Regions from separate parts of the Homo sapiens genome. Here region 2 is linked to region 1. Evidence: fine-mapped expression QTL. A gene starts in region 1. The other region holds a variant in brackets. All regions are shown on one strand. Distances are between the middles of the regions. Region 1 holds the start of PIGU (phosphatidylinositol glycan anchor biosynthesis class U). Region 2 overlaps ITCH (itchy E3 ubiquitin protein ligase).

Region 1 (5,378 bases):
CGGGTCGAAGTGACTCTCCTGTCTCAGCCTCCCAAGTAGCTGGGATTACAGGTGCCCGCCACCTTGCCCAGCTAAATTTTTTGTATTTTTAGTAGAGACGGGGTTTCACCATGTTGGCCAGGCTGGTCTCGAACTCCTGACCTCAAGTGATCTGCCTGCCTCGGCCTCCCAAAGTGCTGAGATTACAGGTGTGAGCCACTGCGCCCGGCCATTTTTTTTCTTTTTTCTTTTTTTTTTTTTTTGAGGCAAGGTCTTGCTTTGTCGTACAGGCCTGAGAGCAGCGGCGTGATCTTGGCTCGCTGCAGCTTCAACCTCCCAGGCTCAAGTGATTCTCCCACCTCAGCCTTCCCAGTAGCTGAGACTACAGGCATGCGCCACCATGCCTGGGTAATTCTTATGTTTTCTGTAGAGACAGGTTTCACCATGTTGCCCAGGCTGGTCTCAAACTCCTGGGCTCAAGCAATCCTCCCGCCATGGCCTCTCAAAGTGCTGAGATTACAGGCGTGAGCCACTGCGCCTGGCCCACTCCCCCTTTTCTTTCTCTCATTAAGGTTTGTGATTTTTTTTTTTTTTTTTTGAGACGGAGTCTTGCTCTGTCGCCCAGGCTGGAGTTATGGTTTGTGATTTTACTTATGTTATTCTTTAACTATTTTATCTCTTCAACTGCTTTCCAAGTTACATAAGGGCAAAGGCAGATGGTGCCATTTTGTCACTGCAATATTCCCCAACACCCAATAGAGGGCTTGTGGGAATATAGAGATGTTTGAAAAATGTACACCTGTTCACATCATTTCTGGTTTAAAATTCTCCAATGGCATATGGATTGCACTTTGAATAAAGCCCAAATTCTCAAGCATGGCCAATAGGTCCCTACCTGATTGCCCCCCGTCTCTCCATCCACAGCTTCTTCTATTCTCTCCACTTGAGCCATACTTGTTTTCTTTCTGATCCTCAAACATACCTTGCTCTTTCCCCACTCAGTCCGTTCCTTCTGCTTGGAGGCTCTGATTAATTTCTCATCCTTTAGGTCTCAGCTCAAATATCACCTCTTTCTAGAGTCTTCCCTGATCACCTTGTCTAGTGTTACCACCCTTATTATTACACCAGCAGTTATTCTCAGTCATACACTGTTTCGTTTTCTTTCTTCTCTCTCTTTCTTTTTTTGAGACAGAGTCTGGCTCTGTCGCCCAGGCTGGAGTGCAATGGCGCTATCTTGGCTCGCTGTAGCCTCCGCCTCCCAGGTTCAAGTGATTCTCTTGCCTCAGCCTCCTGAGTAGCTGGGACTGCAGGCACAGGCCACCATGCCTGGCTAATTTTTGTAATTTTAATAGAGACGAGGTTTCACCATGTTGGGCAGGCTGGTTTCAAACTCCTGACCTCAAGTGATCCGGCTGCTTCGGCCTTCCAAAGTGCTGGGATTACAGGCGTGAGCCACTGCGTCCAGCCTGTTTCCTTTTCTTCACAAATATGAAATTTCCTTGCACATTTAATATTATTATTGCTAATATTTAAGCACTTACTATACATTAATTAATGAAGTGTGCTGCTTAATGCTTATCAATGGGCTCTCCAAACCCCAAACCCCTGATTTGTAGTGTTTGCTGATTCCTGTGGTGTAAACACTCGCATTGGGAGGGATTTTCAATCTATCAACCTGAGGAAACTGAACACCACCATTTGGGAAGAGAAAGAGATAGTATTTGCTGTACTGATACAGCGGTGGTAAATAATCTCAAAAGCACATATAAAAAAAAGTGTAGTAAAATAATTAGAAAGTGACGTGTTGAATATGTATTCCGTTGTTTTCAATATAAGTTATTTAACTGTAGGTTTATATGTCTTAATTTTCAAAAATGCCTGTGTTTAAAAGCGACTGGCAAAATTTCTAAGCCTTCCGGCCAGGCACGATGACACAAGCCTGTAATCCCAGCACTTTGGGAGGCCGAGGCAGGCAGGTGGATCGCCTGAAGTCTGGAGTTCGAGACCAGCCTGACCAACATAGAGAAACCCTGTCTCTACTAAAATTACAAAAAATTAGCCGGGCGTGATGGCGCATGCATGTAATCCCAGCTACTCGGGAGGCTGAGGCAGGAGAATCGCTTGAACCTGGGAGTCGGAGGTTGCAGTGAGCTGAGATCGCGCCATTGCACTCCAACCCGGGCAATAAGAGCGAAACTCCGTTTCCAAAACAAAAAAAAAATTTCTAAGCCTTCCTCAACTGTCCCTAGTTAGCCTATAATCAGCACATTTTTCAGCACACAAGGGTTAAGCGACTTGTTGAACTAGCTAATAAATCAGTCTACTACTCCAAAACGCATCTGTAGAACCTAACATAGTGCCTGGAAAATAGTTGGCGTTTAACAAACAACTGCCAGAATAAATTTTTTAAAAAATACACATTTAACACTCTTTAAAAACATAAAAGGTACCAGCCTGGGCAACATGGCGAAACCCCGTCTCTACTAAAAGTACAAAAACTTAGCCGGGTGTGGTGGCGCGCACCTGTGGTCCCAGCTACTCTGGAGCCCGGGAGGTCCAGGCTGCAGTGAGCTGAGATTGCGCCACTGCACTCCAGCCTGGGCGACGGCACTGAGACCCTGTCTCAAAAACAAAAAACATAAACATTTTGGGCAGGGTGCGGTGGCTCACGCCTGTAATCCCAGCATTTTGGGAAGCCGAGGCGGGCGGATCACCTGAGGTCAGGAGTTCGAGACCAACCTGGCCAACATGGTGAAACCCCATCTCTACTAAAAATACAAAAAAAAAAAAAAAAAAAAAATAGCCGCGCGTGGTGGTGGGCGCCTGTCATCCCAGCTACCCAGGAGGCGGAAGTTGCAGTGAGCCAAGATCGCGCCACTGCACTCCAGCCGGACGACAGAGCGAGACTCCGTCTCAAAAAAAATAAAAATAAAAATAAAAATAAACATTTTGGCATTGAAAACATACACGCAAGAGTGAATTTAACATCTGTTTAAAAGTCTCTCACAATCCCAGGAAGGCGACTACTTCCGCTTCTACTTTCAGCAGCGTTTCAGCCCCGCTATAGCGGCGCGGCTTCACAAAACACCTGCGATCGTAGAAGGTTTCGCCCCACCTTCTGCATACGCAGCTTGAGGCGCCCGCTTTCCGTCGCTCCGGCCCGCCTCGCCGCAAGGCTTTCTGGGAGCCGTAGTCCCCACGTCTGGCCTCTCCGGCGCCAGCGGCAGCGCGCGCCCACCCGCGGAACTACAGAGCGTGGCGCACAGCGCGCGAGGCTCCTCCGCCTCGCCTTCCCTCCCCGCCCGCGCGCCCGCCCCAGTTATCATGGCGGCTCCCTTGGTCCTGGTGCTGGTGGTGGCTGTGACAGTGCGGGCGGCCTTGTTCCGCTCCAGTCTGGCCGAGTTCATTTCCGAGCGGGTGGAGGTGGTGTCCCCACTGAGCTCTTGGAAGAGAGGTGAGGCCACTGGCTCGAGCAGACTGTCAGGCCCCACCTGCCCTCCCGCGGCCTCTGTGAATGGGAGGCGGGGGCAGTGACCGCCAGCGCGCGGTTCCTAGAGAACTAACTGACTGTCTCGTGGGGTTCTTGGAGAGGGCGGGGCCTGAGGGCGGGGCTGGTGAGGGGAGGGGGCGTGGGGACCGGGGCGTGGGGACAGTGTCGTGAGGTTTGGGCCCTGGGGGCCGGACCACCTAGTGGTGGGGATCTGAGGGGGCGTGTCCCATTCAGTGTCCTGAGCCGAGGAGTGTGGTCTGTGGGAAGGGTTGGAATAAGAGGAGGAGGTGCTTGTGGAGCGCGGCTTGCAGAGGAGTTTGGGATTTGGGGCGGGATCGCCAGGGGTGCTCCCTGGGATAAAAGGTTATGTGTGAGGGGGTCCGGGATGAGGGGACCAATTTTGCTTAAGCGAGGAGAGTGTGCGTGTGCTTTAGACGTCTCTTCTCAGTCTGGGACTTGCAGGGCAATTTTTGTTACTGTTCCTTACTAAGTTCTTCACCGAACATTGTTTTATACTAACGCCTACAGCGAGAAAGCGAAGTTGGCCTGAAGTAGCTGCACAGGCTAGTGAGGGAGACAAATCGTTATAATAATTCATGAAAAGTATACTTTATGTGTCCACCCAGTTCCTTCCTTAGTATTCTGACCCTGAATAAACTATCCCCTACCTTTCCAGTTTTCCAGAATGTGGGATTTGAGCTGACTCTTGAAGGATGTAGGGTTTTGAAAGGGAGATTAGAGAAAAGGAGAGTTCCAGGTAGCAGAAAGTAAATAGGATGAAGAAACGTTCAAGGATGTGAAATGTCCAAAGCAGGGGAGTAATGGGGTGGAAGCTAGGTTTAGGCCAGAGTTTGATGATTAAAAAAAAACAAACAACTTTTTTTTTTTTTTTTTTACTGAAGTACAGTATACATACAATGCATATTAAGTAAGTGTAGAGTTCAATGAATTTTTAAAAACTGTATTCACTCATGTAGCCAGCACCTAGTTCAAGAAACAGTATCAGCACCCCAGAAGTCCCCTTTGTGTCCTTTAAATGCTAAAGTTTTTTTGTTTTTGTTTTTGTTTTTTGTTTAGAGACAGGGTCTTTCTATGTTGCCCAGGCTGGTCTGGAACTCCTGGACTCAAGCAGTCTCACTTGGCCTCCCAAAGTGCTGGGATTTCAGGCGTGAGCCATGGCACCTGGCCAAGGCTAACGTTTTGATGTTATCCCATAGAATGTTGGTATGGGGAACGGCATAATGAATGGGTGTTTTATGAATAGAGTTAAGGTTTCTAAAAATGGTAACATATACCTTTTCTCATTTAGTCCTCACATTTATTTCTATGTGATAGATGGTGTTATTTTCCCCCTTTTACAGATGAGGGAACTGAAATTTAGAGAAGTTAATTTGCCCAGGTTTCCTAGTTGGGGAATGGTAATAAAGATAGTAATAATTCATGTCTGAGATTGTAAGAGCTTGGATTTGTTACCTCTGCGTATTATTTTTCTGTTGAAATGAATCGAAGCCATTTGGTTCCTGTTTTCTTCTGGATAACTGAAAACCTGAGGCAGTATTAGGCCCTTCTTCCTCTACACCCTACTAAGAGCATTTCTTATCTCATAATTACCTGTTTATATCCGGTTTTTCCACATTTTCTCTCTCTCTCTTTTTTTTTTTTTTTTTTTTTGAGATGGAGTTTCACTCTCATTGCCCTAGCTGGAGTGCAATGGTGCGATCTCGGCTCACCATAACCTCCGCCCCCTGGGTTCAAGCAATTCTTCTGCCTCAGCCTCCTGGGCAGCTGGGATTACAGGCATGCACCACCATGCCTGGCTAATTTTGTATTTTTAGTAGAGACAGGGGTTCTCCATGTTGGTCAGGCTGGTCTTGAACTCCCGACCTCAGGTGATCTGCCTTCCTCGGCC
Region 2 (5,378 bases), 250 kb after region 1:
AAACATTTTATGCGGGAACTTTCAGGAATTCAAGAAATCTTCTACTAAATATAATAATACTAAAAAAAGACAAAAGAGACATAATAGTATTCAGTCTACAGATATTTATGTAATTTTTTAAACCTGTCCTATTGCTTTTCTTTTTTTTTGACACAGGGTCTAACTGTCATCACTCTGAGTACAGTGGCACGATCTCAGCTCACTGATCTCCCCAGCTCAAGTGATCCTCCCACTTTGGGCACCCTCCCCACTCCAACAGCTGGGACTACAGGCACGTGCCACCAGGCCTAACTACCGTTTTTTAATTTTAATTTTTCTGTTTTGTTTTGTTTTCTGTAGAGATGAGGTCTCACTCAATTGCCCAGGCTGGTCTCAAACTCCTAGGCTCAAGTGATCCTCCTGTCTTGGCCTCCCAAAATGCTGGGATTACAGGTGTGAGCTACCATGACCGGCCCCATTGATTTTAATCACAGTAAAGAATAAAAGTATCTGCTATTTTCTAGGCAAGAAGTTACTGCTCCTTAATATTCTACATCTCGTGAGATTAGTATAGATGATTCTTCATCATAAGAATGTGAAAGCAGATACCTATTAGGTAAGACACAACAGCTTTATAAACTTTGATTTTCCTAAAGATCTTGATGAGTTGTCTTTAACTTTTTATTATGAAAACCTTCATATATTGGCCAGGTGCAGTGGCTCATGCCTGTAATCCCAGCACTTTGGAAGGCTGAGGCAGGCAGATCACGAAGTCAGAAGAATGAGACCATAGTGGCCAACATGGTGAAACCCCGTCTCTACTAAAAATACAAAAAATTAGCTGGGCATCGTGGCGGGTGCCTGTAATCCCAGCTACTCGGGAGGCTGAGCCAGGAGAATTGCTTGAACCTGTGAGGTGGAGGTTGTAGAGAGCCAAAATTGTGTCACTGCACTCCAGCCTGGGTGACAGAGTGAGACAACACCTCAAAAAACAAAAAAAAAAACCAAAAAACTTCCATATATCTATCGGCCAGGCATGGCAGCTTATGCCTATAATCCCAGCACTTTGGGAGGCTAAGGCAGGCAGATCACTTGAGATCAGGAGTTCAAGACCAGCCTGGCCAATATGGCAAAACCCCATCTCTTACTAAAAATACAAACAGCCGGGCATGGTGGTGTATGCCTGTCTTGAGTAGTCCCAGCTACACAAGAGGCTAAGGCAAGAGAATCGCTTGAACCCGGGAGATGGAGGTTGCAGTGAGCTGAGATCGCGCCACTGCACTTCAGCCTGGGTGAAAGAGTGAATCTCCATCTAAAAAAACAAAAAAACAAAACAAAAAAAAAACAACCCATAGATGACAAATGCAGATAGACTAATACAATAAACTCCCATGTACCTAACAGCACAGCTTCAACAACCATCAGTATTTTGTTCTACTTTCTTCACCTATCCTCCTCTGCAGCATCTGACACTGTAACATCCCATCTTTGTGGATAATTTTCCCTCACAGTCTGTGACATTACTTTTCTCGTTCTTCTCCCCTTCTGACTACTCCTCCTGTGGTTCATCATCTTCTTCCTACTCACTGCTTATGCAATTTGAGAAAAACAAAGAATCAAATGGAATTTTATAATCACTGCACTCTGTGGTTAAGACATGCCACTCACTACTTTAAAAGCAGAATCATCTCCTTTCCTAATTTTATCTGCTGTTACCGATTTCCAGGATAACCAATAAGCAGTCTAAGTTAATTCACATAGTCCAAGGCTTTCAACACCTTTTAGATGAAGGGGGCCTGCCCCTCCATACCTGTGGGTATTTCTCGTCAGGTGGAGACGAGAGACTGAGAAAAGAAATAAGACACAGACACAAAGTACAGAGAAAGAACAGTGGGCCCAGGAGACCGGCGCTCAACGTGTGAGGACCCACACCAGCGCTGGTCTCTGATTTCCCTTAGTATTTATTGATCACTATTTTTACTATCTTGGCGAGGGGAGTGTGGCAGGGCAACAGGGTGATGGTGGGGAGAAGGTCAGCAGGGAAAAATGTGAGCAAAGGAATCTGTATCATGAATACGTTCAAGGAAAGGTACTATGTCTGGATGTGCACAGAGGCTAGATTTATGTTTCACTTTACACAAACATCTCACTGTAGCAAAGAGTAACAGAGCAGTATTGCTGCCAGCATATCTCACCTCCAGCCACGGGGCGGTTTTCTCCTATCTCAGAATAGAACGAATGGTTGGCTTTACACCCCGACATTCCATTCCCAGGGACGAGCAGGAGATAGAAACCTTCCTCTTATCTCAACTGCAAAGAGGCCTCCCTCTTTCACTACTCCTCCTCAGCACAGACCCTTCACAGGTGTTGGGCTGGAGGATGTAAGGTTTTTCCTTTCCCACGAGGCCATATCTCAGGCTGTCTCAGTGGGGGGAAACCTTGGACAATACCCAGGCTTTCTTGGGCAGAGGTCCCTGCGGCTTTCTGCAGTGCATTGTGTCCGTGGTTAATCGAGAATGGAGAATGGCGATGACTTTTACCAGGCATACTGCCTGCAAACATATTGTTAACAAGGCACATTCTGCACAGACCTAAATCCATTAAACCTTGAATCAATACAGCACATGTTTCTGTGAGCACAGGGTTGGGGCTAAAGTTACAGATTAACAGCATCTCAAAGCAGAACAATTTTTCTTAGTACAGATCAAAATGGAGTTTCTTACGTCTTCCTTTTCTACATAGACACAGTAACAAACTGATCTTTCTTTCTTTTCCCCACATTTAGGTCCAAACTTGAACGCAGATAGGCACATGAAAGTGCTAAACCTGGGCTAACAGCAAACAGCTGGTACAAAGCTCTGCCCCTTCTAATGAAGGCCCAGATGATACCATAGCTAGTGGTGACCTTCACATATGTGTAAAGCTCCTATCTCAGTTTTTCTGGAAAAGAAACTTAACAGCCCAATGATGGCTCTGGAGTTTAGAACACCCTGCCTCTGAAAAGGTGCCAGTATATTTATTTTCTACAAGCTGAAGAAGTATCAACAATTTGGTTATCCCTAGCCCACTCCAGATAGCTCTAATCCGATAAGCTAAGAGTCTTCAATCTTTTGCAAATATTTCCCTTCTTGAGTTCTGAATTCTTTCTGACACTCATTTATTCT[TA/A]TATCATGAACCTGAAGTTTACACTAAAATGAATATTTAGGAAATCTATCTCTCCGCATTCTGTGGTAAGCAATCAGTGAATGCTTACCTTGTTTCATCCTTGGATCTGGAGCCATCATCATTCTGAGAAGCACCTTTAACATCAAAGTTTAAACAGAAAATGAGTTTCAAGAGAGTAGTTTTCATGTTTTTTCTTTTCTAAACATGCCATGTAAGCAAAGCCTTTTATTAAATCTTTGTAATAAAGAACATACTATAACTTAAATTCCAACATGACTTTAAAAGGAAAAATGTGATTTTCATGACTGCAAAAAAAGTCTGCCAAAATTTTGTGCAAATGCTTAATAATTAATGGATACGGGATGTTAATTACTAAAGGTATATTACTCATGCACTACTATTCCTGCCTTTTTTTTGAAATATGTCTAACTCTAATTTAAACCTAGTGTTTTAACCATCTTTGTATCCCAAATACCTCATAAAAAAGTGCTGATCGCCAGCAGAATAAAATCGATTCCAGAAACAGAAAAACCCATAACGTCTCTCTTATTGCAGGGGCCTGGAAAACAGCTTAAAAATTAGGAAAGCCACAAATGGGAATCCAAGTTGCCAAAAATTAATGCCACAATATTCTTATTTTCTTCTTGCTTTATTGATGGAAAATATCCTTAGGATTCAGTCCAGATCTTTTTACTGTAACAGTGTTGGAGGAGCCAGGTGCAACAGCTTACACCTGTAATCCCAGCATTTTGGGAGGCCAAGGTGGGCGAATCACCTCAGGTCAGGAGTTCAAGACCAGCCTGGCCTACATGGTAAAACCTGTCTCTACTAAAAATACAAAAATTAGCCAAGAGTGGTGGCAGGCACCTGCAATCCCAGCTACTTGGGAGGCTGAGGCAGGAGAATCGCTAGAACCCGGGAGGCAGAAATTTCAGTGAGCCAAGATCGCGCCATTGCACTCCAGTCTGGGCAACAAGAGCAAAACTCCCGTCTCAAAAAAAAGAAAAGTGTTGGAGGGAGGGTGCTAAAGGTAGGTACATTTAAAGAAGCAAAACAAATGGTAAACAGGGAAAGAGAAAGAAAAATGATCACATGTAGAAACAAGAACTCAAGTTCGACCACCTAGGTCCATTTAGTAAAGGAACAATAGGCCCTGGATAGAATCATAGTTTAAACAGGGAAATTATTACCATATTACAAAAAAGCATAATTGGTGGATTAATTTAAAAAATACTGAGTCACCACTATACTATACCATACTTAGCAAAGTTGGTAAATGTCTCATCCAGTCTAGAAATATATTATCTTTAAATAGTATGTGAATAAAATGTTGTCTATACAATGGAATTATTACTATTTGGTAATAAAAGAGAACAAACTAATGAAACACGCTATATCATGGATGAACCTCAAAAACATTATGCTAAGTGAAAGAAGCCAGACACAAAAAACAGATATTTTATGATTCCATTTATACAAATGTCCAGAAAAAGACGAATTTTTAGAGATAAAAAATAGAGGCCGGGCGTGGTGGCTCACACCTGTAATCCCAGCACTTTGGGAGGCCAAGGTGGGCAGATTGCCTGAGGTCAGGAACTTGAGACCAGCCTGGCCAACATGGCGAAACTTCATCTCTACTAAAAATACAAAAATTAGCTGAGTGTGGTGGCGGGCGCCTGTAGTCCCAACCACTCAGGAGTCTGAGGCAAGAGAATCACTTGAACCTGGGAGGCAGAGGTTGCAGTGAGCAGAGATCACACCACTGCACTCCACCCTGGGCGACAGAGTGAAACTCCGTCTCAAAAAAAAAAAAATACAGATTAGTGGTGGTTGCCTGTGGCTGACAGTGAGAAGGGAAGCTCCTGTAAACAGGCAAGAGGGATTTTACTGAGGGGATAAAAATGTTTTAAACCTAAATTACAGTGATAGTTGAATCCCTCACTTAAGTTACTAAAATTCATTAAGCTGTACACTTGAAATGGGTAAATTTTATGTTGTATAAAATACAACTCAATAAAGATGTTAATGTGGTAAAAAAAAAATGGTACAATGAAATACATTTTGGCTATAAAGGGTAAATTTCAGTTTAAGAATGTTTTAATATGGAATATAGTCCCCTAAAATGGCTTATGAATGGGACATAAATGAAATCAGAAAACCACAACAAAATATCCAGCATAAGTTACTAAAATGTGTCTATTAGTATTTCACTTTTCTCAAAATTAAGAAAATCA

What was found. PIP is the estimated chance that this variant, and not a neighbour inherited with it, causes the effect.
Region 2: its variant is the best candidate, but not a certain one, in a credible set for the expression of PIGU in whole blood (TOPMed, PIP 0.55).

The regions. Positions count from the first base shown.
Region 1 is chr20:34,675,011-34,680,388 of GRCh38, reverse strand. It overlaps PIGU (phosphatidylinositol glycan anchor biosynthesis class U), which reads left to right and starts at 3,297. Exons shown (of 12, transcript NM_080476.5): 1 at 3,297-3,433. The coding sequence starts at 3,304. RefSeq lists enhancers at 2,057-2,942, 2,943-3,829 and silencers at 3,228-3,337, 3,578-3,677.
Region 2 is chr20:34,422,380-34,427,757 of GRCh38, reverse strand. ITCH (itchy E3 ubiquitin protein ligase) reads right to left here. Exons shown (of 25, transcript NM_031483.7): 7 at 3,233-3,278. Among named protein-coding and RNA genes, the nearest start is that of MIR644A, 41 kb to the left of the region's middle. The variant TA/A (reference allele first, on the strand shown) is at 3,144.